Homo sapiens: one gene and its partners. The protein of the gene in region 1 purifies or fractionates together with the protein of each later gene. This does not show direct contact. Each region holds a gene or a part of one and is shown in the gene's direction. Other genes may lie near its edges.

Evidence for each region.
Region 2: the proteins of KLC4 (region 1) and KIF5C purify together in Homo sapiens (affinity purification with mass spectrometry; 2 studies listed by BioGRID and IntAct, with this or other methods). This does not show direct contact.
Region 3: the proteins of KLC4 (region 1) and KIF5B purify together in Homo sapiens (affinity purification with mass spectrometry; 4 studies listed by BioGRID and IntAct, with this or other methods). This does not show direct contact.
Region 4: the proteins of KLC4 (region 1) and KIF5A fractionate together in Homo sapiens (co-fractionation; 2 studies listed by BioGRID). This does not show direct contact.

The regions. Positions count from the first base shown.
Region 1 is NC_000006.12:43,062,627-43,069,649, forward strand, and holds part of KLC4 (kinesin light chain 4), read left to right. Parts: intron 1-290; coding exon 291-521; intron 522-2,993; coding exon 2,994-3,075; intron 3,076-3,679; coding exon 3,680-3,899; intron 3,900-4,369; coding exon 4,370-4,457; coding exon of another isoform or gene 4,458-4,526; exon of another isoform or gene 4,527-4,771; intron 4,772-7,023.
Region 2 is NC_000002.12:148,870,611-148,878,238, forward strand, and holds the start of KIF5C (kinesin heavy chain), read left to right. Parts: upstream 1-4,616; 5' UTR 4,617-5,007; coding exon 5,008-5,133; exon of another isoform or gene 5,134-5,585; intron 5,586-6,401; exon of another isoform or gene 6,402-6,732; intron 6,733-7,628. UniProt on the Homo sapiens protein: Microtubule-associated force-producing protein that may play a role in organelle transport. Has ATPase activity. Involved in synaptic transmission. Mediates dendritic trafficking of mRNAs.
Region 3 is NC_000010.11:32,018,417-32,025,439, reverse strand, and holds part of KIF5B (kinesin-1 heavy chain), read left to right. Parts: intron 1-2,403; coding exon 2,404-2,592; intron 2,593-3,182; coding exon 3,183-3,300; intron 3,301-4,152; coding exon 4,153-4,214; intron 4,215-4,308; coding exon 4,309-4,418; intron 4,419-5,040; exon of another isoform or gene 5,041-5,480; coding exon 5,481-5,582; exon of another isoform or gene 5,583-6,877; coding exon 6,878-6,938; exon of another isoform or gene 6,939-7,023. UniProt on the Homo sapiens protein: Microtubule-dependent motor required for normal distribution of mitochondria and lysosomes. Can induce formation of neurite-like membrane protrusions in non-neuronal cells in a ZFYVE27-dependent manner.
Region 4 is NC_000012.12:57,567,041-57,574,063, forward strand, and holds part of KIF5A (kinesin heavy chain isoform 5A), read left to right. Parts: intron 1-85; coding exon 86-173; intron 174-453; coding exon 454-578; intron 579-1,922; coding exon 1,923-2,027; intron 2,028-2,215; coding exon 2,216-2,364; intron 2,365-2,494; coding exon 2,495-2,643; intron 2,644-2,946; coding exon 2,947-3,122; intron 3,123-4,280; coding exon 4,281-4,349; intron 4,350-5,020; coding exon 5,021-5,227; intron 5,228-5,539; coding exon 5,540-5,686; intron 5,687-7,023. UniProt on the Homo sapiens protein: Microtubule-dependent motor required for slow axonal transport of neurofilament proteins (NFH, NFM and NFL). Can induce formation of neurite-like membrane protrusions in non-neuronal cells in a ZFYVE27-dependent manner.

The DNA.
Region 1 (7,023 bases):
GTTGGGTTACAAATAGACAATAGGGGAACAAGGGCAGAAACGAGGCCAGTGAGGAAGTTATTGTAATAATTTGGGTAGGAATTGATAGTGGCTTGGTCCAGGGTGACAGCAGTGGAGGTAGTGGGAAATTGGATTCAGGGTATGTTTTGAAGGTAGCACCACTGCTACACCCCCACCTTCTGGCTCCTCTGTGCCCCTGCCAGTCTTGCCACGTCCCAGTAGGCTCCCCTTCCACCTGTTCCTGAATACTCCCACCCAGAATCTGGAGCTCAGGGGATGTGCCCACCTAGGTGATGCTGGCTCTAGCCAGCCACCTGAGCACAGTGGAGTCGGAGAAACAGAAGCTGCGGGCTCAGGTGCGGCGGCTATGCCAGGAGAACCAGTGGCTGCGGGATGAGCTGGCTGGCACCCAGCAGCGGCTACAGCGCAGTGAACAGGCTGTGGCTCAGCTGGAGGAGGAAAAGAAGCACCTGGAGTTCCTGGGGCAGCTGCGGCAGTATGATGAGGATGGACATACCTCGGTGAGTGTGCACAGGCGAGACTGGCTGAGGGGTGGGCAGCCGGGAGTTACCACAGACATGGGGGCAATTGCCCCATCATCCTCAGGGTCCATCAGCTCTACCCAACCTGCTCTCACCTGAAAGAATTCCTTTTTCAGCCCTGACACCAACTCCAGGTGACAGCAAGGGGAAAAACAATATTCAGGTAATTCAGTCAACATTTAATGAGATGCCTACTGTGTACCAGGCATTGTGCACTGCACTGGTGAATGGGGCACACAGAGTTCCTGCTCTCACAATTACAAGCTTGTGAGGGAGATAGATAAGCACCTGGACAATTCCAATCCAGAATTCTACGTGGTACAATTAGGGAAAGCATAACCCAGTTGAGCATGACCCTCCTAAAATTTGCTTTCAAAATGTGTGAATTTTTTTTTTTTTTTTGAGACGGAGTTTCACACTTGTTGCCTAGGCTGGAGTGCAATGGTGCAATCTCAGGTCACAGCAACCTCCGCCTCCCGGGTTCAAGCAATTCTCCTGCCTCAGCCTCTTGAGTAGCTAGGATTGCAGGCACCTGCCACCACGCCTGGCTAATTTTTGTATTTTTACTAGAGACGGGGTTTCACCATGTTGGCCAGGCTGGTTTTGAACTCCTGACCTCAGGTGGTCTGCCCGCCTGGGCCTCCCAAAGTGCTGGGATTACAGGTGTGAGCTACCATGCCCGGTCCAAAATGTGTGAAATTTAACCCTCGCTCAACAGAATGCAGTGATGCCATCTCAGCTCACTGCAGCCTCCGCCTCTGGCTTTCAAACAATTCTTGGGCCTCAGCCACCCAAGTAGCTGGGATTACAGGTGTCTGCCACCACACCCGGCTAATGTTTGTATTTTTAGTAGAGATGGAGCTTTGCCATGTTGACCAGGCTGGTCTCAAACTCCTAGCCTCAAGTGATCTGCCTGCCCTCGGCCTCCCAAAATGCTGGGATTACAGGCGTGAGCCACCACGCCTGGCTGAGAGTGTGTGTTTTCTTGAGATGTATCTGTAGGGAACAAGTCTTATCCAGGAGAACATATATGTGACAAAATACAAAGCAGCAAGTGCTCAGTGCTGGATGAGTGGTTCAGTCAGTGTGGGAAGAATTTCACAGAGAAATGTCTCTGAGGGCTGGAATGGTCTAAGAAGAATTCATAGAGGAAGCAGGGAGCCTGGGCAACATAGTGAGACCCTGTCTCCACAAAAAATTAAAAAATTAGCCTGATGTGGTCGTGTGCACCTATAGCCTCAGCTACTCTGGAGGCTGAGGTGGGAGGATCGCTTGAGCCCAGGAGGTGGAAGCTGCAGTGAGCTGTGATTATGCCACTGCATTCTAGCCTGGGCTGTTGCCAGACTAGAGACTCTGTCTCAAAAAACAAACAAAAAAATAGAGGAAGCAGGATACAGGGATGGGTAGGATATAGGTTGGATTTCCCATTTGAGTGGGTTAGGAGTTGAGATGGATTTTGAAAGTTCATGATGAGGAAGAGGGAGCAGCTTTTTAGACTGGAGTGCAGGGTGTCATTGATAAGGCTTACAGCCTGGAAAAGCTGGTCTGTCCCAGGGAAAGTGAGTAGATGAATTGCATAGGACACATTGGTGAAGCTGGGTAGGAGGGTTGGTGTTTGGATGAGGCTGCAGTTCCTGATGGGGAAAAGCAGATTTTCCTAGTGCGGAATAGGTTAGACAGTGAGGGAGGGTTACGTAGTAAGTCCAGAATGAGCTGTGCAGATGATGGGCACCAGGCTGAGCTAGACACTTTCTGGGTACATGTCAATAAGATCGGCCACACTCCCTTCCCTCAGGAGAGACAGGACAGACATACAATCAACGTAAACACACAGAGATCAGCATAGGGCCATAATTACAAGAGTTAAGGCAAGATTGAGGGTGGTTAGAAAGGAAACTTTTTTTTTTCTTTTTTTTTTGTTTTGAGACAGAGTTTCGCTCTTGTTGCCCAGGCTGGAGTGCAATGGCATGATCTCGGCTCACCGCAACCTCTGCCTCCCAGGTTCAAGCGATTCTCCTGCCTCAGCCTCATGAGTAGCTGGGATTATAGGCATGCGCCACCACGCCCGGCTAATTTTGTATTTCTAGTAGAGATGGGGTTTCTCCACGTTGGTCAGGATGGTCTTGAACTCCTGACCTCAGGTGATCTGCCCACCTCGGCCTCCCAAAGTGCTGGGATTACAGGCGTTAGCCACCACACCCGGCCAGGAAGGAAACTTTCTGTATGAGAAGGAGGGGAAGTCTTGAGATTTTGTCCAAAGCATCTCTGGCTGTTACAAACAAGAGGCCTGAGCTTGGCTGGGCCACTTGCTAGCCTTTCCAGGGGCAGAGACAGGAACAACAGTCTTCTCCTAGGTCCCATCTGTCTGTGATTTCATGGCTTAGAGGGGTCACTGAGAAGGCTACTAGGTAGGGATATCTTGGCCCTTATATGTTGCTTCTTCCCTTCCAGGAGGAGAAAGAAGGCGATGCCACCAAGGATTCCCTGGATGACCTCTTTCCTAATGAGGAGGAAGAGGACCCCAGCAATGGCTGTGAGTCTGCCTCTGGAATGGGAGGGTGAAAAGGGGCAGCAGGAGGCTGGCCCTAGCTGTGGCCCACCCTGTACACAGGACAGTCACCATCTAGAAATAGGTTCTCCACTTTCTCTGGAGACAGGGCAGGGGCTGGGCTAGTACTTCGATTTCCTCAGCCTCCCCATTGAACGAACATGTATTAAGCACTGAATATGTGCCAGGTACTGTGCTAGGCACTAGGAGTACTGAGATGGAAATGGCATAGGTCTTACCAGTAAGGAGTTCACAGTCTAGTGGGAGAATAAACCTGAGACAGGGAGACCATGAGCCCCCCAAGGGAAAGAACCAGGTCTTTCTTACCTTTGTACTCCTGGAACATCCCTTGGTTCATACTTATTAAATAAATGTTTGTTGAATGCATGAATTACTGGGTGAACAACTGAGGTTGTGATGGGCATAGGTCAAGGGAGTGGATAAAAGAATAGCACTTGAGGCAGGTCTAATATTGAGAGTCCAGGTTGGGGTGGGCACAAGTATGGAACAAGACATGCAATGGGGAGTGGAAGGGCAGACAGCAAAGGGGAGAGGAAGAGTCCTTTGTTTATGTTCTGTGATGGTTTAGTGTCCCGTGGTCAAGGTGCTACAGCAGCTCAGCAGGGTGGATATGAGATCCCAGCAAGGTTGCGGACGTTGCACAACCTGGTGATCCAGTACGCAGCCCAAGGTCGCTATGAGGTGGCCGTGCCACTCTGTAAGCAGGCACTAGAGGACCTGGAGCGCACATCAGGCCGTGGCCACCCTGATGTCGCCACCATGCTCAACATCCTTGCTTTGGTGTATCGGTGAGGACTTCCCTCCTCCAGTGCCCAGATCTTCCCCCACATTCCCACCTTGGTCCTCCTTTGGCTTTCATTTTTCCTCTTTACAGGGTACCTCTCCTCCCTGTTGGGCCTCCCAGATACACCCCAACAGGGTGCTTCTTTATGTGCCAGAACTCTCACTTTTCCCATACCTAAGCATTTGCTCATCCCTTGGGATCCTTGTTCCTCTAATCTCTCTTCTGGGGAGTGCTCTCTCCCTCTCTTCCCCCTGCCCCCTTGCTTCTTATAACTTGTGGCCTCCTCTTGGGATGGCAGTGCCCTGCATTCTGGTATGAGTATGTCAGTGAAGCCCCCTTACTGTCCACGCCAGGCTTCCTGTCTCCTCATGGAGGTCTCCAATCCTTAAATGTACTCAGTCCTTCCAAAGGGAAGGAGGGAAGGAGAAGGCTTGCGGGTTCAGGGTAACTCCTGTCACTTTTGTCTTCTTCCAGTGACCAGAATAAGTATAAGGAAGCTGCCCACCTGCTGAATGATGCCCTTAGCATCCGGGAGAGCACCTTGGGACCTGACCATCCTGCTGTCAGTATTCCTTGCCCTCCCCACCCCACGCCCCGCACCCCCCACCATTGCTGTTTTGGCCTCTCTTAGCTCATCCATCTGCTGCCCTCAGTCCACTCACTAAGGGTGCTGAGGAAGGAGGCATAAGAAGTCCTTTCTTCCAGGCACTGTCCAGTGATCCTAATGATTCTCAATTCTCTGAGACTCAGTGACTCCTTTTTATAACAAATATTTTGCTTGAATTTAATTAATAGATAAGTCATAGGTAAATCCACATATGATTTCTACAAAACTTAATATGCTACTCTAATAAATATAAAAGAAAAACAAGAAAAGTAATTTGTAAGGACAATATATACAATGTAATATAATAAGGTAAAAATACAAAACAACAGTAGTTGTATTGAGTACAACTTTGTTAAAAGAAATAGCAAAGTGGCCTGGGCACAGTGGCTCACGAGTGTAATCCCAGCACTAATCCCAGCACTTTGGGAGGCTGAGGAGGGTGGATCACGAGGTCAGGAGATCGAGACCATCCTGGCTAACATGGTGAAACCCCATCTCTACTAAAAAAAATACAAAAAATGCCGGGCGTGGTGGCGGGCGCCTGTAGTCCTAGCTACTCGGGAGGCTAAGGCAGGAGAATGGCGTGAACCCGGGAGGCGGAGCTTGCAGTGAGCTGAGATCGTGCCATTGCACTCCAGCCAGGGTGACAGAGCGAGACTCCGTCTCAAAAAAAAAAAAAAAAAATGAAAATATAGGTGGACAGGCCGGGCGCGGTGGCTCACGCCTGTAATCCCAGCACTTTGGGAGGCCGAGGCGGGCGGATCACGAGGTCAGGAGATCGAGACCATCCTGGCTAAAACGGTGAAACCCCGTCTCTACTAAAAATACAAAAAATTAGCCGGGCGTAGTGGCGGGCGCCTGTAGTCCCAGCTGCTTGGGAGGCTGAGGCAGGAGAATGGCGTGAACCCGGGAGGCGGAGCTTGCAGTGAGCCGAGATCCCGCCACTGCACTCCAGCCTGGGCGACAGAGCGAGACTCCGTCTCAAAAAAAAAAAAAAAAAAAAAAAAAAAAGAAAATATAGGTGGACACTTTATTAAAGTACAGTATTATAAGAAATCACAAGGGTCGGGCACAGTGGCTCATGCCTGTAATCCCAGCACTTTGGGAGGCCAAGGTGGGCAAATCACGAGGTCAGGAGTTCAAGACCATCCTGGCCAACATGGTGAAACCCCGTCTCTACTAAAAATACAAAAATTAGCCGGGCGTGGTGGGGGGCACTTGTAATCCCAGCTACTCAGGAGGCTGAGGCAGGAGAATCACTCGAAACCAGAAGGTGGAGGTTGCAGTGAGGTGAGATCGCGCCTCTACACTCCAGCCTGGGCAGCAAGAGCAAAACTCTGTCTCAAAAAAAAAGAAAATAAATGACAGACCAGATTTATTTGTGTATAAGAGGAAGAGACTGGGCTTGGTGGCTCACGCCTGTAATCCCACCACTTTGGGAGGCCAAGGCAGGTCGATCACCTGAGGTCAGGAGTTTGAGACCATCCTGGCCAACATGGTAAAACCCCGTCTCTACTAAAAAAAAAATATAAAATTAGCCAGGCATGGTGGCATATGCCTGTAATCCCAACTATTTGGAGACTGAGGCAGGAGAATCATTTGAATCCGGGGGTTGGTGGTTGCAGCGAGCCGAGATCGCACCACTGCACTCCAGCCTGGGCAACAGAGCAAGACTCTGTCTCAACAAAATAAGAAGCGGCCCAGCGCTGTGGCTCACTCCTGTAATTTCAGCACTTTGGGAGGCCGAGGTGGTCGGATCACCTGAGGTCAGGAGTTTGAGACCAGCCTGACCAACAAGGTGAAACCCTGTCTCTACTAATAATACAAAAATTAGCCAGTTGTGGTGGCATGCACCTGTAGTCCCAGGTACTCGGGAGGCTGAGACAGGAGAATTGCTTGAACCCAGGAGGCTGAGGTTGCAGTGAGCCAAGATCGCACCATTGCACTTCAACCTGGGTGATGGGGTGAGACTTCATCTTAAAATAAATAAATAAATAAATAAATATAAATAAAAGGAAAGAGAGAAACAACCTTAAGTAGAGATATCACGCCAAGGCAAATGATAGAGTTGTCAATGTACAGAAAATGAAAAATGAAAAGTTTGTTTGTTTTGTTTTGTTTTGTTTTGTTTTTTGAGATGGAGTTTCGCAGTGTCACCCAGCCTATAGTGCAGTGGTACAATCTGGGTTCACTGTAATCTCTGCCTCCCAGGCTCAAGTGATCCTCCTGCCTCAGCCTCCCAAGTAGCTGGGATTACAGGTACGTGCTACCACGCCAGGCTAATTTTTGTATTTTTAGTAGAGATGGGTTTTCACCATGTTGGTCAGGCTGGTCTTGAACTCCTGACCTCAAGTGATCCACCTACCTCAGCCTTCCAAACTGCTGGGATTACAGGTGTGAGCCACCACACCCAGCTGAAAAGTTATTTATTTTTTGTTGAGATAGAGTTTCACTCTTGTTGCCAGGCTAGAGTGCAACATGGCACGATCTTGGCTCACTACAACCTCCACCTCCCGGGTTC
Region 2 (7,628 bases), on another chromosome or scaffold:
CCTCCCAAGTTCAAGCGATTCTCCTGCCTCAGCCTCCCGAGTAGCTGGGATTATAGGCATGCACCACCACACCCGGCTGAAGTATTTTTAGTAAAGATGGGGTTTCACCATGTTGGCCAGGCTGGTCTGGAACTCCTGACCTCAAGTGATCCGCCCACTTTGGCCTTTCAAAATGCTTGGATTACAGGTGTGAGCCACTGCACCCTGCCCAAGAGCTCTAATTTTTAAATAGCTTATTTACAAAGCACTCTATGCTTCAGGTCAAACATTTGTCAAGCATCTGCAATATGCCAAGAACTATACAGATTTCATTACCTAATTTTAAAATTAAATTAAGACCCAGAGAGGTAATAGGATCTATATAAGAATGCTCGAAATAGTGAAAATAGCCCTGTATCTGGAGGTTTAGCTCTGCCACTATCATGATTTCTACTGTACAATATACCCATGCAAGTCACTTTAAATTATTTCATAGGTTAAAGGCCTTTTTACTAAAAAAGAAAGAAAAAATTTTAAATTAAGTCCTTACTCGTGCCAGGACCTGTGCTAAAGTGTGTGTGTGTGTGTGTGTGTGTGTGTGTATATATATAACGTTTCTCATTTAAATCTCCTGAAACCTCTGTAAGATAGGTTCTGTTATTATCCCCATTTTACAGATGGAAACATGAGCTTAGAAATGCTAAGTCACTAGCTAGAAATAATGCAGCTAGTAGGTGACAATTATTTGAATAGAGTCTGACATCAGAGACTGTACTCTTTAAAGCACACACACAGTATTTGGATACTCTTGTATCACAGATAATATAGGGAATTTCAACATGTAAAACAATTCAATTAGTTCACAATTTTAGTCAATTTGGTACATATCATTCACATGCTTATAAACAGAAAATAATAGGAAAAATCAGTCAACAAACACCTGGGGAGAGAGGGAAAAGGCAACTTCATTTCTCTTTTGATAGGATTCTAAATACCACAAATAGGAGAAAACAGCCAAATCAAAAGTTAGGAAATCTGTAACTTCAACCTTCATAAAGCGTAAAGTGTGTCTTTAAGAAGCAAAGATTTAGGGAAGTGCCATTTGGGCACCTCTCACTCTCAAAAATGAGAGAGCTGTTCTCCTTTTTCTTTTTTTTTTTTTTTGCGACAGAGTCTCATTCTGTCACCTAGGCTGGAGTGCAGTGGTGCGATCTTGGCTCACTGCAACCTCCGCCTCCCGGGTTCAAGTGATTCTCCTGACTCAGCCTCCTGAGTAGCTGGGATTACAGGCGCATGCCACCATGCCCGGCTAATTTTTGCATTTTTAGTACAGACAGGGTTTCACCATTCTGATCAGGCTGGTCTCAAACTTCTGACCTTGTGACCCACCTGCCTCGGCCTCCCAAAGTGCTGGGATTACAGGTGTGAGACACCGAGCCCGGCCCTGTTCTCCTTTTTCTTTCTTTTGCCTATTAAACCTCTGCTCTTAAAACGCACCTCCCCCTCTGGCCCTGCCCCCCCCCAAAAAAAGAGGCAAAGATTTAAAAAGTTAACAGGAAAAGACTACTTTATCACATTTAGCTTGAATGCTAAGTAGTAACATTTACTAAGGTCCACAGTTTACTGCTTACTACACAGTTTACCACTTTACTACACAATAACCCACCCTGGACTGATGGCTTCTTCAGGAACACTGAGAGAATGTAAAATACAGGAATCCTGATAATTCTGCATTCTTCGAGCAATCATTATAATCAAGCTGATGTTTTTATCCGTCATCATTGTGTATAGTTCCTTTGTTGTAATTGCTCCTTTCTCTTTGGTCTCACATTTTTTCACTCTTTTCACCATTGCTCTTTTGGGTTTTGTCTTTGGAATCCAATACATTCTCCAAAGAAACTTTAGCCAATGTGCCACCATCCTCTCTTCCTGTTTCCTGCCTTTTTTGTTGTAGTTGCTGTGCTTCCTTCTGCCTGTCCTTTTCCTCAAGTTATTTCCGGACTTCAGCTTCTTTATATCTTAGTTTAAGGCTCTCAGAGAGTCTTTCAGCTTCTTCAATGGCTTTTTTGATGTTTGCAGTTCCAAGTATTGAATGGACGTAATCCTCTTAGTGCTTATTTTCTCTGGTTTAACTTCTGTCTTCTTATTGAGGTCTTTTAGTGAAGAACTCAGGTAGAGTTCTTTAGGAACTAAAGCCACAGCAGGCATGGTGAATTATCTTTACTTTTCCACGTTCACGATAGATGCTATATTTCCTTAAAAGTAGTTTTTTCCGTGGCGTCGGGTGCGCTTCACTAACACCAGCCTTCTTGCCAAAGGCCCATCTCCCAAGAACTCGAGGGAGAATTAGCCTTGGCTACCAAGATGGAATCCAGCCCAGCTCATCATCCTTTGCCCATTTTTAAAATTTTTTTTTGGTTGTGAGTTATAGGTATTCTTTATATATTCTGTATATTAACTCCTTATCAGATGTATTATTTGCAAATTTTTTCCCATTTCATGAGCTGCCTTCTCACTCTGTTCATAGCATCCTTTGATGTGCAAAAGTTTTAATTTTGATGTAGTTAAATTTATCTGTTTTTTCTTCTGTTACCTATCTTTTTTTTTTTTTTCCCTGAGATGGAGACTCACTCTGTCGCCCAGGTTGGAGTGCAGAGGCACAATCCTGGCTCACTGCAATCTCTGCCTCCTGGGTTCAAGCGATTCTTCTGCCTCAGTCGCCAGATTAGCTGGAATTACAGGCACGTGCCACCATGCCTGGCTAATTTTTGTATTCTTAGTAGAGACCAGGTTTCACCAGGTTGGTCAGGCTGGTCTCAAACTCCTGACCTCAAGTGATCCACCCATCTCAGCCTCCCAAAGTGCTGGGATTAACATGCGTGAGCCACGGCGCCCGGCCTGTTACCTATCTTTTGGTGTCCCTTTTCAATTGTTTTGAATCCTACTTAGCCCATTTCCTATATTAAGCCTTCTCAGACAACACTGAGAACTTCATCCTCTGTACTCCCACTAGTTTCTAAGCTGCCTGAGGGCGATGACTTATTTTGCAACCTCCCTTCAAATGAGAGGCCCTACGTTATCTCCCTTGAAAAGGGTTCACTTAATAAATCTAAGTTTACAGAGTGACAGCAAATGCCATTTGCTCAGTTAATAGCTGATGAATGAACAGATGAACGAATGAATGATGACTGAACACAGTGACACACAGATACGTCTCTGTCCACTTGAGATAATCCTGACCTCCTCAGATAAACCAGTGTATGCAAGGTTCTGGGCATCTTCTGGTGGGCTCAGGGAAACTGAGAATTGGATTGTCCTCTCTAGTATATTATGAAGTTGATCATTTAAGATGATGGGTCTCTGAGCCAGAGCCTGAGAATTACTTAATTTAAAAACAGATGAGAAGGTGGCACCTGGGTCTTTTTAATCTACTTCCACTGCACATGAGGAGATGAAATAGAACTGGTACTACTTACAAGGGTTTATAAAAGTTGATTTTAGTAGGTCTGTCCTCTCAGCTAGGCAGAGAACACTTGTATTTTCAGGTATTACCCGAATTTAAGCAACAGATGTGTTCCTAAAATTAACTAACTTATTTGTTTTATGATCATTTGTTCAGCACCCAATAACATCTAACTTTCAAGAGCTTATCCTATATACATGTCAGGCACCGTGCTAGGTGCTTTAAAAGCATCTGTCTTTTAATTCCCCCAGAAATCACAAGATGATATTATTCCAATGACAGAGATGAGGAAACTGAGTCTTAAGGAAATTAAGACTTCTTAATTTCCTCCGCTCTTAATTTCCTCCGCCTGTTGGTCATACATCTAATAAGTGGCTGAGGTGGGATTCACACTCATGCATTGCTTCTTCCTAGGGTAGAATCCTTATTCAGTATGCTGCCCACTATGTGCTAGATGCTACAGACACAAAGATATCAAGCAGATATCACCACCCAAGTGCAGTGCTAGAGACAGGCACAGCAGATTAGGGGAACATCAAGGAGGGCCACCAACTCTTTATAGGTGTTTAGTGAGCTGGGAAAGTCTGAGGAAGGAGGGTTGAGCTAGGTCTTAGAGGAAAAGGAAGTTCTGGAAAAATAGAGTGGACACTCAGTTGTTCTGCCAGCCCGGCACCATGTCTGGGAATACCATCCCTCTTCTTTTGGGAACCTTCCCACCAAGGGATTCCTCCATAATCTTACAAAATCCCTGATTCTGGTTGATTGGTTTAGCACTAGATGCCAACCTAAACCAAGGCCAATCAAACCCAAACTCTGAACAGACATCCATCCTTATCTAGTGGTAGAAGTTGAAGGATGAAACCCAGGGGCTATTGGGAGCTGTTTCCCAAGTGATTTTCTTTTGGGATCAGGATGATCCAGACCCAGTTATCTAGAGATTTTAACCGGAAATATTGGATATGACCTCCATCCGGTTCCGGCTTGGGCAGCCAGACCGGACTTGCAGGCTCTTGGAGGTCGCATCCTGTCCTTCCCCCGGCAGGTAGAGTGACTACAAGTCCCGGGATGCGCAGCGCTCGGAGTCGGGCGGGGGCCGGGCGGACCTCTACGGTGACGTCACCGTCCCGGGGCGGGCCAGGGGAGGGCGGGGCGGAGGGGCGGGTCTCAAGGCGGCAGAGCGCGCTGGTGCTGATGCAGGATGGCTGAGCGCGCAGGAGCCCGGGAGGTCTGAGCCGGGCGAGGCTCGCTCCCTGCGCATCGCCTCCTCCGCCCGCCGCGTGGTCGCGGGCAGGTGGGCCGGGGGGCGCTGGGCAGGGGCGGGGCAGGGCCAGGGCAGGCCGGTCTGCAGCCGGAGGGGCCGGAGCGGAGAAGCTGCCCACCTTCCCGGGCTCGGAGCGGCCGGGGCTGCTCAGCCGGCCGGGCTCGCGATGACCTGCTGAGAAGCGTCGTCGGAGGCTGCAGGAGGCGGCCTAGCTGTGGGCGGTGCAGCTCGCGGCCTCCTCCCTCGTCGTTCCCGGCCCCGGCCCCCCACCCATCCCCGTGCCCCCTCCCTACCGCCGGCCGAGATGGCGGATCCAGCCGAATGCAGCATCAAAGTGATGTGCCGGTTCCGGCCCCTCAACGAAGCGGAGATCCTCCGCGGGGACAAATTCATCCCCAAATTTAAAGGCGATGAGACCGTGGTGATCGGGGTAAGTGGCTGGGGCGTCTGCCTTCCCTGCTGCTCCGCGCCGCAGCTGGGCGCCCCGACGCCCCAGACGCAGCGGAGGTGTTTAGGCCGCCCCCTCGGACATTCCCGCGGGGCTGGCCTCTCGGGTGGACCTGACCAGAGACCCCTCGCCCCGCGCACTATGGTTCCCTCCCGGGCGGGTGGAGAGGCGGCCGGGAGCGGCGGGCCGGGCGGGGGTGGCGGGGGTGGGGATGGGGGGCGAAGACGGGCTCGGCGCCGCCATTGTTCGCCGGGTGGGGGCCCGGGTGGGCCCATTGTTCCCCACGCTCGCCTCGCCGCGTGGGTAGTGTGTTCGGGTGACCCTCAAGCCGGGTGCCCAGGCCCCCTTTAAAGTGTGAGCTCTGCAACCCGCAAATGCTTCTGGGCATCAATCAATTCGATTTACCAAACGCCTTGCCTCTTCTTCTCACGACCCTAGCAAAAAAGAAAGAAAAAGGGGTACAGGAAAATTTCTAGTCGCGTCTCGGAGCTCCCGCGGCAGTGTAGACGCGGCTCCCCGCGGTGTTACACCTGGCTCCGCGCGCGGAAGGCGGAGGGTTGGGGGAGTACTGGTGGCCTCGGTGTCCCCTGGAGGCCTGGTGTGTCTCCCGCTTCCTCTCACGCCTGGCTGCCCTGGATGTGGAGTCCCGGCTTGATCCCTCCCCTCTGGGATGACCTCCCTCCCATGTCTGCAGACCCTCTGATGCGCCTCACGCTGGGTGGAGAGGAGGCTGTGTCCACATCTGTGGGGCGAGGGGGCTCAGAGCGCAGTAGCCCCCTGTGCCAAGAGCAGAAGTTACTTCGTGCGGCTCGGACCCCCCTCCCTCTCTATCTCCCTTCCCCACCTTTTCTCCCCCACCCCCTCCCCCTACTTAGCTCCCTCTCTGCAGCTGGGGCTGCTGGTAGGGGGAGGGAACACCAATGGATTGTAGTTCTTAAAGGAATCTGTCAGATGAAACAAACCAGCTCGGTCCCCCGCCCCTTCCCCGCCCGCTGTCCGTAGCGTGTGTGGCTGATGGTGCCCCCTTTGTATGCGAGCCGCGTGGGGAGGGACCGAGTTAATGGGAGCCTCCCGGTCCCCGCTGACACGTTCCTGGCAGCCTGCTCCAGGCTGCTGATGCAGCCTTCCCGTCCCCAGCATTGATTAAGTGATGTCATCCTGATCACTGAGCATGCTCCGACTAACCCCCTCCTCCCCTTCCTCCAGTGGCTGGTGTATTTAGGTCAAGTGATTGACAGGTGACAGTTTACCGAGGGTATTGCAGGAGTCCGCCTGGCCTTTCTCAAGCGCCAGAGGCCGACGTTTTCCAGCCCGGGCGGTCCCCAGCATCTTTGCCAAGGTTGTCTGCCGCAGTCGCAGCGAAGGGCCCTGGGGACCAGCAGGTGCCAGCTGTACCGTAAGGCGGGAGCTCTCCACGCTAGAGGAGCCTGGGCAAGGCTCTGGCCTCAGGGCTTTAACCTGTACCTGGCTTTAAAAGGCTGCTCCCTTTGACGACCTCTTCTCACCTCCCCATTTTCACAGTCATCAGGAACGTCTGACCTCCAAACGCTGTGTGGATGGGCGATCATTCTGCGAGCTGACCTATGAGGGCAGGAAAGCGGGGTTTTCTCTCTGTTTAGTGTTAAACTTGCAGAGAAGATATAAGCTACGATTATTGATGAGGAAGGAAATTCTGCAGTTAATGGCAGATAAGTGTTAGTGACATATACATAGGCAGTACCTGGGGCAGTTAGTGACTTATTTGGTTTACAGCTCTCAGCCAGTATCTGCCTACAGCCTGATCTGCTACTTTCTGAGCCAGGCTGTGGTTTAGATAGAGTGGGAGTTACTGGGGACATCTAGTCCCTGCCCCTTGGCTTGTAACAATTTTTAAACAAATAATTGTGCAGTACTGGAACATGTTCTGGCAACCCTATTTTTTTCCCAGAGGTTTTGAAGAGCCTGAAGAAGTTTTTCTTCTCCCCTCCTCCCTCCTCCCCCATCCCCTTTCCCCTCTCCCCTCTCCCTTCTCCTCCTCTTCTTCTTCCAGAACCAATGAAATGAAGTAATAAATCATCTTCCTTGACCTGTATGCAAGGCAGAGCTCCTTAATTTTAGAATTATCCTTCTTTAATATGACATTGCTATGAGTATATATTTCCTTATCTAAATAAACATATATTAGTGGCTAAACAAATTAAAACCAAGTCACCATATTAAATAAGAAGTTTAAATAAAAATCATAGATGTGAATATACACATTGCTTTTCAACCGTAAAGTAAGTTTTGCTCATCCTACTATAATCCTTTAATACAACAGTTTTCAGTTTTTCTAAGGTAAACTTTTTATTGAAATGAAGCATTCATATAGAAAACTGTTATCATAAGTATACAGTTGGATGACTTTTCATAAAGTAAATGCTCCCTGTAACCACCTCACAGACTAAGAAACAGACATTTTGGGACCCTAGAAATCCCCCTTGTGGCCCTTCCAGTCC
Region 3 (7,023 bases), on another chromosome or scaffold:
GGTACCACTGCACTCCTTCCTAGGTGACAGAGTGAGACTCTGTCTCCAAAAAAAATAATAATAATTCATGTGTAAGTTATTCTTTGGACATAAATTTTCAGTTCAGTTGAGTAAAAATACCTAGAAGTGCTAGGTTGTACGTTATGACTATGTTAGCTTTGTAAGGAACTCCCAAATGGTCTTCCAAAGTGGTGGAAACATTTTGCATTCCTATCAGCCATGAATGAGAGTCTGCTGTTCCACATCATTGCCAGTGTTTGCTCTTGTCAGTTTCTTGGGATTTTACTAATGTATGGTGTTATTTTATTGTCATTTTAATTTGCAGTTGTGTTTTTTCTTATTGTTGAGGTTTTCTTTTTCTTTGAGACGGAGTCTCGCTCTGTCACCCAGGCTGGAGTGCAGTGGCGTGATTTTGGCCCACCATAACCTCCGCCTCCTGGGTTCAAGTGATTCTTCTGCCTCAGCCTGCCAAATAGCTGGGAACACAGGCGCGTACCACCACGCCTGGTTAATTTTTATATTTTTAGTAGAGATGGGATTTCACCATATTGTCCAGGCTGGTTTCGAACTCCTGACTACAGGTGGTCCGCCTGCCTCAGCCTCCCAAAGTGCTGGTACTACAGGCATGAGCCACTGCGCCTGGCCCTGTTGTTGAGTTTTGTTTTGTTTTATTTTGAGATGGAGTCTCGCTCTGTCGCCTAGGTTGGAGTGCAGTGGCATGATCTCGGCTCACTGCAAGCTCCTCTTCCTGGGTTCAAGCAATTCTTCTGCCTCAGCCTCCCGAGTAGCTGGGACTACAGGCTCCCACTACCACACCTGGCTAATTTTTTGTATTTTTAGTAGCAACTGGGTTTCGCCATATTGGCCAGGCTGGTCTTGAACTCCTGACCTCAGGTGATCTGCCCGCGTCAGCCTCCCAAATTGCTGGGATTACAGGCGTGAGCCACCGTACCTGGCCTCCTATTGTTGAGTTTTAAGAGTTCTTCGGCCGGGCGCGGTGGCTCACGCCTGTAATCCCAGCACTTTGGGAGGCCGAGGCGGGCGGATCACGAGGTCAGGAGATCAAGACCATCCTGGCTAAAACGGTGAAACCCCGTCTCTACTAAAAATACAAAAAATTAGCCGGGCGTAGTGGCGGGCGCCTGTAGTCCCAGCTACTTGGGAGGCTGAGGCAGGAGAATGGCGTGAACCCGGGAGGCGGAGCTTGCAGTGAGCCGAGATCCCGCCACTGCACTCCAGCCTGGGCGACAGAGCGAGACTCCGTCTCAAAAAAAAAAAAAAAAAAAAAAAAAAGAGTTCTTCATATGTTTTGGATATAAGTCTTTTATCAGATAGTGTTTTGCATTATTTCTCTGTGTCTTGTTTTTTTTTTTTTGTTTTTTTTTTTTACTCTCAACGTCATTTTTTGAGACTAAAAATTTTTAATTTTAATGAGGTCCAACTTACCAAGTTTTACATTAATAGATTGTGTTTTTGGTATTGTATTTAAAAACTTGTCACCAAACCCAATATCACCTAGATTTTCTCCTGTGTTAAAAGTTTTTTTTTCAGTTTTGCATTTACATTTAGATCTATGATCCATTTGGAGTTAATTTTTCTGAAAGGGGTAAGGTGTGTACCAGGATTCATTGTTTCACATCTGGATGTCCAGTTGAAGAGACTGTCCTCCCTCCATTAAATTGCCTTTGCACCTTTGTCAGAGATCAGTTGACTGTATTTTGTGGTTTTATTCCTGGGCTCTTTATTCTGTTCTGTTAACCTGTTTATCTGTTCTTTGCCAGCACTGTACTGTTTTGATTATTATAGCTTTACAGTAAGTTGCATAGTGTCAAGTCCTGTGACTTTGTTTGTCCTTAGTGTTGTGCTAGCTATTCAGGGTCTTTTGACTTTACATGTAAACTTAATCATGTCATCTGCACAGTTTTATTTCTTCCTGAAGGTGAAGGAATATACAGTGACCACAATTCCTTCTGGTTGAGCTTAAAGTTCATCCTTTCCCTGCCACCTAAACATCCTCTTGTTAAATTTTAAGCTGAACGTGCACATGATTAACAATGAATTTACTGAAGAGGTCCTGTAAAGAGGAAGTGAAAAAATTGAAAGAGGCAGAATTTATTAGTTTGGTTGTATTTTTGTGTTTTCTTTAGGTTTACATTTATTTATTTTTCTTGTTGGCATGTATTAACATTATTCTCAGTTTTTAAAAAAAGGAAGGCAAAAAGTAAGCTGTATTTATTTACCTTTCGTTGAAAACAGTAATAAAAGAAAAAAATAAGATCCAGACTTTGTATGAATATTGAGTAATACTAAAATATATTTTATAAAAAGATTTTATAGCCTAATTGGGAAAACACACATTGAACATTTTTGGCTTTAATTTTTTATTTTACTTTTTCCTTACAGCAGCCTGAGGGAACTGGCATGATAGATGAAGAGTTCACTGTTGCAAGACTCTACATTAGCAAAATGAAGTCAGAAGTAAAAACCATGGTGAAACGTTGCAAGCAGTTAGAAAGCACACAAACTGAGAGCAACAAAAAAATGGAAGAAAATGAAAAGGAGTTAGCAGCATGTCAGCTTCGTATCTCTCAAGTATGTTATAGAACAAAGTTTATTCATTTTTTTGAAACAGCCACATAGAAATTTTATTTATTATACAAGTTTTCAGAAAAATGTGTGTCTATAGGTGAAATTTAGTTGTTTTTTTCCTAGTCTAGCTGCAGTAAATTTGAATGATTTAACTGAGTTATATTTGCCTAACATAAATATGGGTTATGTATAGAAATTTACCAGAATGATGTGACTGGTGGTAACTTGTTAAAGACTTCAGAATTCCAGGGTGGGCAAAACTGCAGGGAACCAGTTTCCTGGCTTGGCAACTGAATGAATGGGGCCATTCACCACTATCAGAATTTCACAAGGAGGGAAGATGGTAACGTTAGATGGTGGTATCTGTAAAATTAGTATTTCATATTTGAGTCTTCAGTGCCTTAGTTTGCAAGTTATGATCACCAATGAATTAATTGATTACATTCTTTAACATTTCAAAATTGGCTCCTGAATATTTTAGTTTTAAATATTCCCAAATTTATCATATATAGATAATGAAATGTTTACTGTCAAATATTCTTAAAGTGTATGCATATGTTTTCCACTTCATATCAGTATATTTTTTCCAAAAGCATGAAGCCAAAATCAAGTCATTGACTGAATACCTTCAAAATGTGGAACAAAAGAAAAGACAGTTGGAGGAATCTGTCGATGCCCTCAGTGAAGAACTAGTCCAGCTTCGAGCACAAGGTATAGCTTCCAACTGTTTATGAGTTACATCTGTGTTCTTATTTTAGTATAATTGTAGTAAACTTAATATTCACACTGAAAGAAATAGTAGGAATATGGCTGATTTCGAATGGTAAACAAATCATACATATTAATGTTGCTTTGAAACATTTTTTTGTTGTTGTTTTGAGACGGCGTCTTCACTCTGTTGCCCAGGCTGGAGTGCAGTGGCACTATCTTGACTCACTGCAACCTCCACCTCCTGGGTTCCAGTGATTCTCCTGCTGCAGCCTCCCTAGTAGCTAGGACCACAGGCACATGCCCCCACGCCTGGCTAATTTTTTACCTTTTTTGTAGAGACAGGGCTTCACCGTGTTACGCAGGATGGTCTTGATCTCCTGACCTCGTGATCTGCCTGCCTTGGCCTCCCAAAGTGCTGGGATTACAGGCATGAGCCACTGTGCCTGTCAAAACATATATATATATATTTTTAAGATTTTGTTTGAATATGGAAATAGCCAATCTGGGGATTTCCCACAGTTACGAAGCGGGGTGTGTGTGTGTGTGTGTCTTAACATAGGGGACTTAGGAGTTATCTCATTTCTTTACCATTCCCTTAACTAATCTGTTCTGGATTAGGCCAAAAAAAAAAAAACCAAACAAACCATAAAGGAATACATAATACCAACACAATGGATGTAACTTGTATACTAGTCTACATGTCATTGAACTTGGAGAGCAGGTGACATTTGGGTAATTTGAAGTTGAATATTGCTAAGGAAAATGCTTATTGTAAAATCCATTTGCTCCTTGGTTTATATGAGGAACCTTAAAGGCTTATTTCACTCTTCTATTTTCTCTCTATTCAAACAGAGAAAGTCCATGAAATGGAAAAGGAGCACTTAAATAAGGTTCAGACTGCAAATGAAGTTAAGGCAAGTTTGATGTCACATTTCTAACAGCTTTAATTAATCAGTATTAATTTTGATTAGTCTGACTTTAACATCCTTTTCCCCCCCAAAATTTTAGCAAGCTGTTGAACAGCAGATCCAGAGCCATAGAGAAACTCATCAAAAACAGATCAGTAGTTTGAGAGATGAAGTAGAAGCAAAAGCAAAACTTATTACTGATCTTCAAGAGTAAGTATTATACTTCTCTAGTTAGGAGGAAAGAATCGGTTACTGATGGTCATGGTATATATTCTTATTAGAAACCTGCAGTTTTCATCAAAATTACATTTTTATCTTGGAAAATAAAGAATTTTCTCATTTATGAGTAAAACTTCTAAATTCCAGGTGAAATTTTTGAGGCTTTTTTTTAGGTCTTTTGATCTAAATTATTCAGTAAAAGAAAAAAATCCCCAACCTAAGTCTATTATTGCATACCACAGTCTTCTCCAAATCCTTTATTTAGTTTCCTTTTTTAAAAAAATTCTTGGCTGGGTGCAGTGGCTGATGGCCTGTGACCCCAGTGCTTTGGGAGGCTGGGGTGGGAGGATCACTAGAAGTCAGGAGTTCAAGACCAGCTGGGCAACATAGTGAGACTCCATCTCTACAAAAAATAATTTTTTAAATTAGCTGAGCTTGGTGGCACATGCCTGTAGTCCCAGTGACCCAGGAGGCTGTGGCACGAGGATTGCTTGAGTATTGGAATCTGAGGCTGAAGTGAGCTATGATTGTACTACAGCCTGGGTGACAGAGCGAGACCCTGACTCAAAATTCTTAACTGGGAAAAACTTTTCTGGAAATTCTATGGATTTTCAAAGGTTTTTTTTTTTTTAAGTTGTCATCTTAGTTTATCTAGAAGCAATTTCCCTGCCTCCATAACCATGTGCACATACATAGAGTTTATGGAAGTCAGAGTTTGCAACAATTTGAGTAGGAACCAAGAAGAGAATAACATAACAAAATAATGATGAGGTTTGGGGCGTAGGTCTTACTATGAATACCTGATGGAAGTAGGCATAAGGATTCAGGAAGATGAAAGACAGAGGAGAACAGAATCATGATTTCAAACCAAAATACGAAAAATTTTGTATGTCCACAAGTAGCCAGGTCCCTTTCCTCTTTTCCTCCATAGGGTATAGGATAACAGAAAAGTCCTTGATGAGATTATAGAATTTAAAAGTTTGGAAATTTTAATGATGACATTGAGAAAACTGTGATATTGATACTGTGTTAATTATTTTTTTCTTTCGTCAGCCAAAACCAGAAAATGATGTTAGAGCAGGAACGTCTAAGAGTAGAACATGAGAAGTTGAAAGCCACAGATCAGGAAAAGAGCAGAAAACTACATGAACTTACGTGAGTAATTGTTTTTAATTAAAGTTTAAAAATAAAAGCTAAATTAGAGGATTATAGGCATTACCTTTGGATATAGCCAGTGGATACATATTTTACTTTGTATGGGCTAAAGGATTTTTTCTTAAATCCACTGAGTTGGTTTGATTTATATCTAAATACTTGGAATATATACTTGCATTTGAGTGAAAGCAAGGTCTTATATTTCATTGTGGTTAAGATTAAGGTTTCTCTTTATTAATCTGCTTGCTGTTTCTTTATCTCCATATTACTTCAGGATCCAGCATAAAAATGAACCTAAAACAATATATTAAGTAACTTCGAAGATTTTAAGATCTAACACAAAAACTGAGTTTTTGTTAAATTTTCTCTTGCATAAAAGAGCATTGTGGTGTTTAGCCTTGCCATTTTGAACAGAGGTTTTCATGGTTTACCTTTTCTCATTTTCTCAAAACTCAGTTTTCTAGAATCTTAGCAGGTAGAAAGTGCATGATTATAATTTTTCACATACCTTGAGTTTGTGAGACAATTTGCAAATCAACTGATATTGTTAGGATAGTTAGAACATCAGGACCAGTTCAGAGTGGATTATATGAAGATTCTGCTAACTTGCAGCTGTAATTTTGTTTAGAATACTTGTAATGTAAAATATTTTAGTCTTTGACAGTTTATAATCTATAATTAATCAGTATCATTTTGGATAAATAGCAGTATAATACATGTGGCATATTTTAAAATATAAATTATAGAACTATTCCTTATTCTTTGAATTCTGCCACATTTTATTTCATCTCTTCCATTGCTATATATGGAATGTATAACAATAGACTGTTGTTTAGAAGGCATATGAAAATTTTTTGAAATTGCAAAGCTGCAGTGGCTCACACCCATAATCTCAGCACTTTGGGAGGCCAGGGCAGGAGAATCAGTTGAGCCCAGTGTTTGAGAATCAGCCTAGGCAATATAGTGAGACCCCGTCTCTACAAAAATTTTTTTAGACAGGGCTGATTGTACATGCCTGTAGTCCCAGCTATTTGGGAGACGAGGTGAGGAGGATCACTTGAGCCCAGGAGGTTGAGGTTGCAGTGAGCAGTGTTTGGGACAGAAACTCTGTGTCAAAAAAAAAAAAATTTTTTTTTTGAAAGACAGCACAGGTAAATTGTTTAAAATAGGCATCTTGTATTTATTTAAATTTAAGAATTTATCCTTTCAGACACAAAATATTTTATTCAACTCTCATGCTAAGTACAATATACAGAATAAAATTTGAAAATATATGTTTGTTCTTCTACTGTTAGGGTTATGCAAGATAGACGAGAACAAGCAAGACAAGACTTGAAGGGTTTGGAAGAGACAGTGGTAAGAAAAACATGAAAATAAACAGGATTGGGAAATATTTTGTGGGTTTTTTCTACCATGATTATTCTAAATTTAAAGTCTGAGC
Region 4 (7,023 bases), on another chromosome or scaffold:
AGAAAATAATAATAATAAAAATAAATAAATAAATACAAACTTAAAAAACAAAGCTTATGGGTCACTGTCCATTTGTCCCCCACAGGGTTGTACTGAACGCTTTGTGTCCAGCCCGGAGGAGATTCTGGATGTGATTGATGAAGGGAAATCAAATCGTCATGTGGCTGTCACCAGTGAGTGAGGATACAAGGGGATCTCTCGAGTCTGAGGATCCACTTGTGTTCTGTGTCCTCTGGGGTGGAGGGACTCAAAAGTGAGCAAGGAAACTGTACCCCCCAGAGGAGGAGGACCCCTTGTCTGTGGGACCCTGCTGCCTGGGAGATGTGGCAGCAGGGCTAGTCCTGGTGGGCACCTTCTCTCTGGGTGGGCGGGGCTGGGGTCAGTGGAAGCCGGGGGCTGAGGACCTCAGTTCTGCAGGGTGGTGCAGGTCCTGTTTCTCCCTTGCTCCTGCAGACATGAATGAACACAGCTCTCGGAGCCACAGCATCTTCCTCATCAACATCAAGCAGGAGAACATGGAAACGGAGCAGAAGCTCAGTGGGAAGCTGTATCTGGTGGACCTGGCAGGGAGTGAGAAGGTAGGGGGTCCTGTGGATATGGGGTGGGTGGAAGCCTTGGCTCTTTTTTTTTTTTTTTTTGAGACAGAGTCTCACTCTGTCGCCCGGGCTGGTTTGCAGTGGCACGATCTCTGTTCACTGCAACCTCCGCCTCCTGGGTTTAAGTGATTCTCCTGCCTAAACCTTCCAAGTAGCTGGGATTACAGGTGCCCACCACCACGCCTGGCTAATTTTTTGTATTTTTAGTAGAGAGGGGATTTCACTGTGTTGGCCAGGCTGGTCCTTGGCTCTTTTTTTTTTTTTGAGACGGATTCTTGCTCTGTCACCCAGGTTGGAGTGCAGTGGCACGCTCTCAGCTCACTGCAACCCCTGCCTCCCAGGTTCAAGTGATTTTCCTGCCTCAGCCTCCCTAGTAGCTGGGATTACAGGCTCCCGCCACCAAGCCCAGCTAATTTTTGTATTTTTAGTAGAGACGGGGTTTCACCATGTTGGCCAGGCTGGTCTCGAACTCCTGACCTCGGGATCCACCTGCCTCGGCCTCCCAAAGTGCTGGGACTACAGGCATGAGCCACTGTGCCCGGCCGACTCTTTTTTAACTAAAAAATGATTTGCATTGGGATATAATTCACATACCATAAAGTTCACCATTTTAAAGTGCAATTCAGTTGTTTGTAGTATGTTCCCAAGGTTGTGCAACCATTACGCTATCCAATTCTAGAGCACTGTCATCTTCTATTCACAGTCACTCTCCATTGTCCCCTAACCCCATCCCCTGTCAACTTCTAATCTACTTTCTGTCTCTATGGATTTGCCTATCCTGAACATTTCATATAAATGGAATCATATGGCTGGGCACGGTGGCTCACACCTGTAATCCCAGCACTTTGCGAGGCCGAGGTGGGTGGATCACCTGAGGTCGGGAGTTCGAGACCAGCCTGGCCAACATAGAGAAACCCCATCTCTACAAAAAATGCAAAATTAGCTGGGCGTGGTGGCACATGCCTGTAATCCCAGCTGCTCAGGAGGCTGAGGCAGGATAACCGCTTGAACCTGGGAGGCGGAGGTTGTGGTGAGCTGAGATCGCACCATTGCACTCCAGCCTGCGCAACAAGAGTGAAACTCCATCTCAAAAAAAAAAAAAGGAATCATGTAATATGTGGCAGGGGTTAGGGGCAATGTGGTGTTTGACAAGACAGTTTAGGGGAACAGAGGAAGGGCCTTCCCCAATCCCAGCCAAGCATCTCTGTTACTCCATCTTCTTCCCTGTTCCTTCCTTCCTCCGTGGACTGAGCCCTGGAACGAGGTGGTGACAGCCCTCTCCATGTGCAGCTGCTCATACACACTCATCTCTTACTGCCCTGGTAGGTCAGCAAGACTGGAGCAGAGGGAGCCGTGCTGGACGAGGCAAAGAATATCAACAAGTCACTGTCAGCTCTGGGCAATGTGATCTCCGCACTGGCTGAGGGCACTGTGAGTGATCCTTAGGTCCCCTCACCCCTCAAGCCACACCCCATCTCCTCCCCCACCTGCTAATGCCACCATATGATCATGCCCCAATTCATGGGTTGTCTGATCCCGGGGTGGCACCACTATCCTTTCTGATTCCCTGTTGAATTTTATTTGTTTATTTCTGATTCCTGGTCTCCTTCCTCCCCCAGAAAAGCTATGTTCCATATCGTGACAGCAAAATGACAAGGATTCTCCAGGACTCTCTCGGGGGAAACTGCCGGACGACTATGTTCATCTGTTGCTCACCATCCAGTTATAATGATGCAGAGACCAAGTCCACCCTGATGTTTGGGCAGCGGTCAGTGGCAGGGTCCCCAGAGGGATCCCTGGTACCCAGCTTCCCATCCCAGCCTCTGCGGCTCTCTCTCCTCAGGGTCACCCAAGTCTCATGTTGCTCTCATTTCTTTGTTCCTCTTCTCCTCACCCAGGGCAAAGACCATTAAGAACACTGCCTCAGTAAATTTGGAGTTGACTGCTGAGCAGTGGAAGAAGAAATATGAGAAGGAGAAGGAGAAGACAAAGGCCCAGAAGGAGACGATTGCGAAGCTGGAGGCTGAGCTGAGCCGGTGGCGCAATGGTTAGAGAGGGATAGGTGGGAGTGAGGGGCAGTGGGAAGAGGAGGAGGATGTTTGGGAGCCAACTCTGTTTGGGTGGTGTTTCTGGCCAGGCCAATCTCCTAGAAGAGGGGCTGTGTTTCTGGACAGGTGCAGTAGAGCAGTCATGGGGGAAGGGAGGGGCCTGACTACCTACCTCCCATACTCCCAAAAGGTAGAGGGTCCACCTGGCAAGAGAGTTCAAGGGGCATGGTGAGTGAGAAGGAAGAACTCGTGGATGCAGCTTCTTCTTCTTCCATCTCTCACCTCGTCTTGCCCCTTTGCAGGAGAGAATGTGCCTGAGACAGAGCGCCTGGCTGGGGAGGAGGCAGCCCTGGGAGCCGAGCTCTGTGAGGAGACCCCTGTGAATGACAACTCATCCATCGTGGTGCGCATCGCGCCCGAGGAGCGGCAGAAATACGAGGAGGAGATCCGCCGTCTCTATAAGCAGCTTGACGACAAGGTGAGGGCGGCCAGGCAGGGCACTGAGGCACGCCAGGTGGGATGAGAGGTAGACGATCAAAGAAAATCGCTTATATTGCCTCTTTCTGGTTTTAAAAGGGATAAATGCTTATGCTTGAAATGTGGAAACATCAATATAAATGTATGTAAGAAAATTAAAATCATCCACTATTCAGAGATAACACTCAACATTTTGCTTTTCTCTGTGCATATACCATGCAATTGAGTTATACTGTATAAGTAATTTTTTTTTTTGAGACAGGGTCTTGCTGTGTCGCCCAGGCTAGAGTGCAGAGGCACGATTGTGGTTCACTGCAACCTCTGCCTCTCGGGTTCAAGTGATTCTCCTGCCTCAGCCTCCAGAGTAGCTGGGATTACAGGCGCATGCCACCACGCCTGGCTAATTTTTGTATTTTTGGTAGAAACGGGGTTTCACCATGTTGGCTAGGCTGACCTCTGGCGATCCGCCCGCCTCGGCCCCCTGAAGTGCTTGGATTACAGGCGTGAGCCACCGTGCCCGGCCTGTATATGTAATTATACATCTGATTTTTTTCATTCAGCATTATATTATGCACAATTTCCTACTTCATTAATAATTCTTCATAAAAGTATTTTTATTTTCATTTATTATTATTATTTTGCTTTGAGAGAAAGAGTCTTGCTTTGTTACTCGGGCTGAAGTGCAGTGGTGCAGTAATAGCTCACTGCAACCTCAAACTCCTGGGCTCGAGGGATCCCCCCCAACCTCAGCCTCTGAAAGAGCTGGGACTACAGGTGCACACCACCACGCCCAGCTAATTTTTTTTTTTTTTTTTTTTTGGTAGAGTTGGAGTCTCACTTTGTTGCCCAGGCTGGTCTCAAACTCCTGGCCTCAAGCGATCCTCCCGCCTTGGCCTTTCAATGCGCTGGGATTAAAGGCATGCACCACCAGGCTAGCTAATATTTTAAATTTTTTGTAGAGACAGGGTCTCACTATGTTGCCCAGGTTGGCCTTGAACTCCTGGCTTCAACCGATCTTCCTGTAGGATATGGGGTTTCTAACTCAAAGCTTATACTATCTGGATTTTTATCAGGATCCTGCCTCTACCCCCAAACTTCTTACGTCTAAACTGGAAGGAGTAGCTTCCCTTCACCTGTCTTTCCCTGTTGCCTCCAACAGGATGATGAAATCAACCAACAAAGCCAACTCATAGAGAAGCTCAAGCAGCAAATGCTGGACCAGGAAGAGGTAATAGGAGGGAGGGCAGGACATGAGAGGAAAGGGGTTCTGTTCATCACTGGAAGGCATGGAATAGACCTTTTTAAAATCAGATGGAAGAAGGCGCTTTCTGCTTGGGGATTAATCACTCCCCTAAACAGCAGAAGTCTGGGAACCTCACTGGGGCTTTTCTTTTCTTTTCCTTTTTTCTTTTCTTTTTTTTTTTTAGAGATGGAGTCTCAATTTGTTACCTAGGCTGGAATGCAGTGGGGCAATCTCAGCTCACTGCAGCCTCGATCTTCCAGGGTCAAGCAGTCCTCCTGCCTCAGCCCCCTAAGTAGCTGGGACTACAAGTGCACCACCACACATGGCTAATTTTTGTAGAGATGGAGTTTTGCCATGTTACCCAGGCTGGTCTCGAACTCCTGAGCTCAGGCAATGTGCCCACCTAGGCCTCCCAAAGTGCTGGGATTACAGGCGTGAGCCACTGCGCCCGGCTGGGGCTTTTCTTAAAGCACAAATTTTAAAGTCTGGGGGCTTCTTCATTCTTCATTCTGTTGCCCTATTTCTATGAAACCTAAAGCCCACTTCCTCTTAACTCTTTATTTTGGGTAGGGTGGGGGCTCAGCTTCCCAGACCCAAGGCCATAGAAATGGTCACTGGCAGTGATCTTTCCCACATGCCACTCCTCTCCCTTGAAGCTGCTGGTGTCCACCCGAGGAGACAACGAGAAGGTCCAGCGGGAGCTGAGCCACCTGCAATCAGAGAACGATGCCGCTAAGGATGAGGTGAAGGAAGTGCTGCAGGCCCTGGAGGAGCTGGCTGTGAACTATGACCAGAAGTCCCAGGAGGTGGAGGAGAAGAGCCAGCAGAACCAGCTTCTGGTGGATGAGCTGTCTCAGAAGGTGGTAAGTGGTGTGCCAATGGTCCAACAGCTCCCTGACCACAGAACATCTCCCATGTCGAGGGGACCTCTGCATCCTTCCAGGGCTGTATGGTGGCTGCACCTCTGCACTGCTGTTCAGTGCATTGTGAGTCCCTCCCCAACCCTGTCACTGCACTTTCCCCTCACAGTCCCTCTGTCTTTCAGACTCTTCTGCAGGGCCTGTGTTCTCTTCATAGCAGCCCTCAGGGTCTTGCATGAAGGGAGAGGCCTCTGCCTGGGCTGGGCAAGGGAGCAGGAGGATGGCAACAGGAATGACCTGAGGGGCTGTCCCCAGGCCACCATGCTGTCCCTGGAGTCTGAGTTGCAGCGGCTACAGGAGGTCAGTGGACACCAGCGAAAACGAATTGCTGAGGTGCTGAACGGGCTGATGAAGGATCTGAGCGAGTTCAGTGTCATTGTGGGCAACGGGGAGATTAAGCTGGTGAGTGGTGAGAGACAGCAGCCTTGTTCAGGCTGGGCACTAGTGGAAGACGCAAGATGAGCCATCCAGGCCTTCACAGATACTGAGAAAGGCAGCCAGAGAGCCAGGAAACATGCCTTTGAACTAGACCCAGGAAGACAGGTAGAGGCTTGTATAGACCCAATTGAAAAGATACATTCTAGGTTGGGCGCAGTGGCTCACCGCTGTAATCCCAGCACTTTGGGAGGCCGAGGCAGGCGGATCACTTGAGGTCAGGAGTTCGAGACCTGACCTCGCCAACATGGCGAAACCCTGTCTCTACTAAAAATACAAAAATTAGCCAGGCGTGGTGATGTGCACCTGTAATTCCAGCTACTCAGGAGACTGAGGCAGGAGAATCGCTTCAACCTGGGAGGTAGAGGTTGCAGTGAACTGAGATCACACCACTGCACTCTAGCCTGGGTTATAGAGTGAGACTCTGCCTTAAAAACAAAACAAAACAAAACTAAATTCTAACGGGTGCTGAATAAAGAAGCAATGGAGGCCAGGCATGGTGGTTCATGCCTGTAATCCCAACATTTTGGGAGGCTGAGACAGGCGGATCGCTTGAGCCCAGGAGTTCACGACCAGCCTGGGTGACATAGTGAAACCCTATCTCTACAAAAAATACAAACGATTAGCTGGGGGTGGTGGCACACACCTATAGTACCAGCTACTTGACAGGCTGAGGTGGGAGAATCACCTGAGTATGGGAGGTTGAGGCTGCAGTGAGACATGATTGAGCTACTGCAATCCAGCCTGGGTGACAGAGCCAGACCTTGTCTTAAAAAAAAAAAAAAAGAGGCTGTACATGGTGGCTCACGCCTGTAATCCCAGCACTTTGGGAGGACGAGGCGGGTGGATCACCTGAGGTCAGGAGTTCGAGACCAGCCTGTTCAACATGGAGAAACTCCGTGTCTACTAAAAATATAAAATTAGCCGGGTGTGGTGGCTCATGCCTGTAATCCCAGCTACTCACGTGGCTGAGGCAGGGGAATCGCTTGAACCTGGAGGCGGAGGTTGCAGTGAGCCGAGATTGCACCATTGCACTCCAGCCTGGGCAACAAGAGTGAAACTCCGTCTCAAAAAAAAAAAAAAAAAAATTTGGGAGGCCGAGGCGAGGTCAGGAGATTGAGACCATCCTGGCTAACACAGTGAAACCCTGTCTCTACTAAAAAAATACAAAAAATTAGCCAGGCATGGTGGCGGGCGCCTGTAGTCCCAGCTACTCAGGAGGCTGAGGCAGGAGAATGGCGTGAACCTGGGAGGCGGAGCTTGCAGTGAGCAGAGATGCGGCACTGCACTCCAGCCTGGGTGAC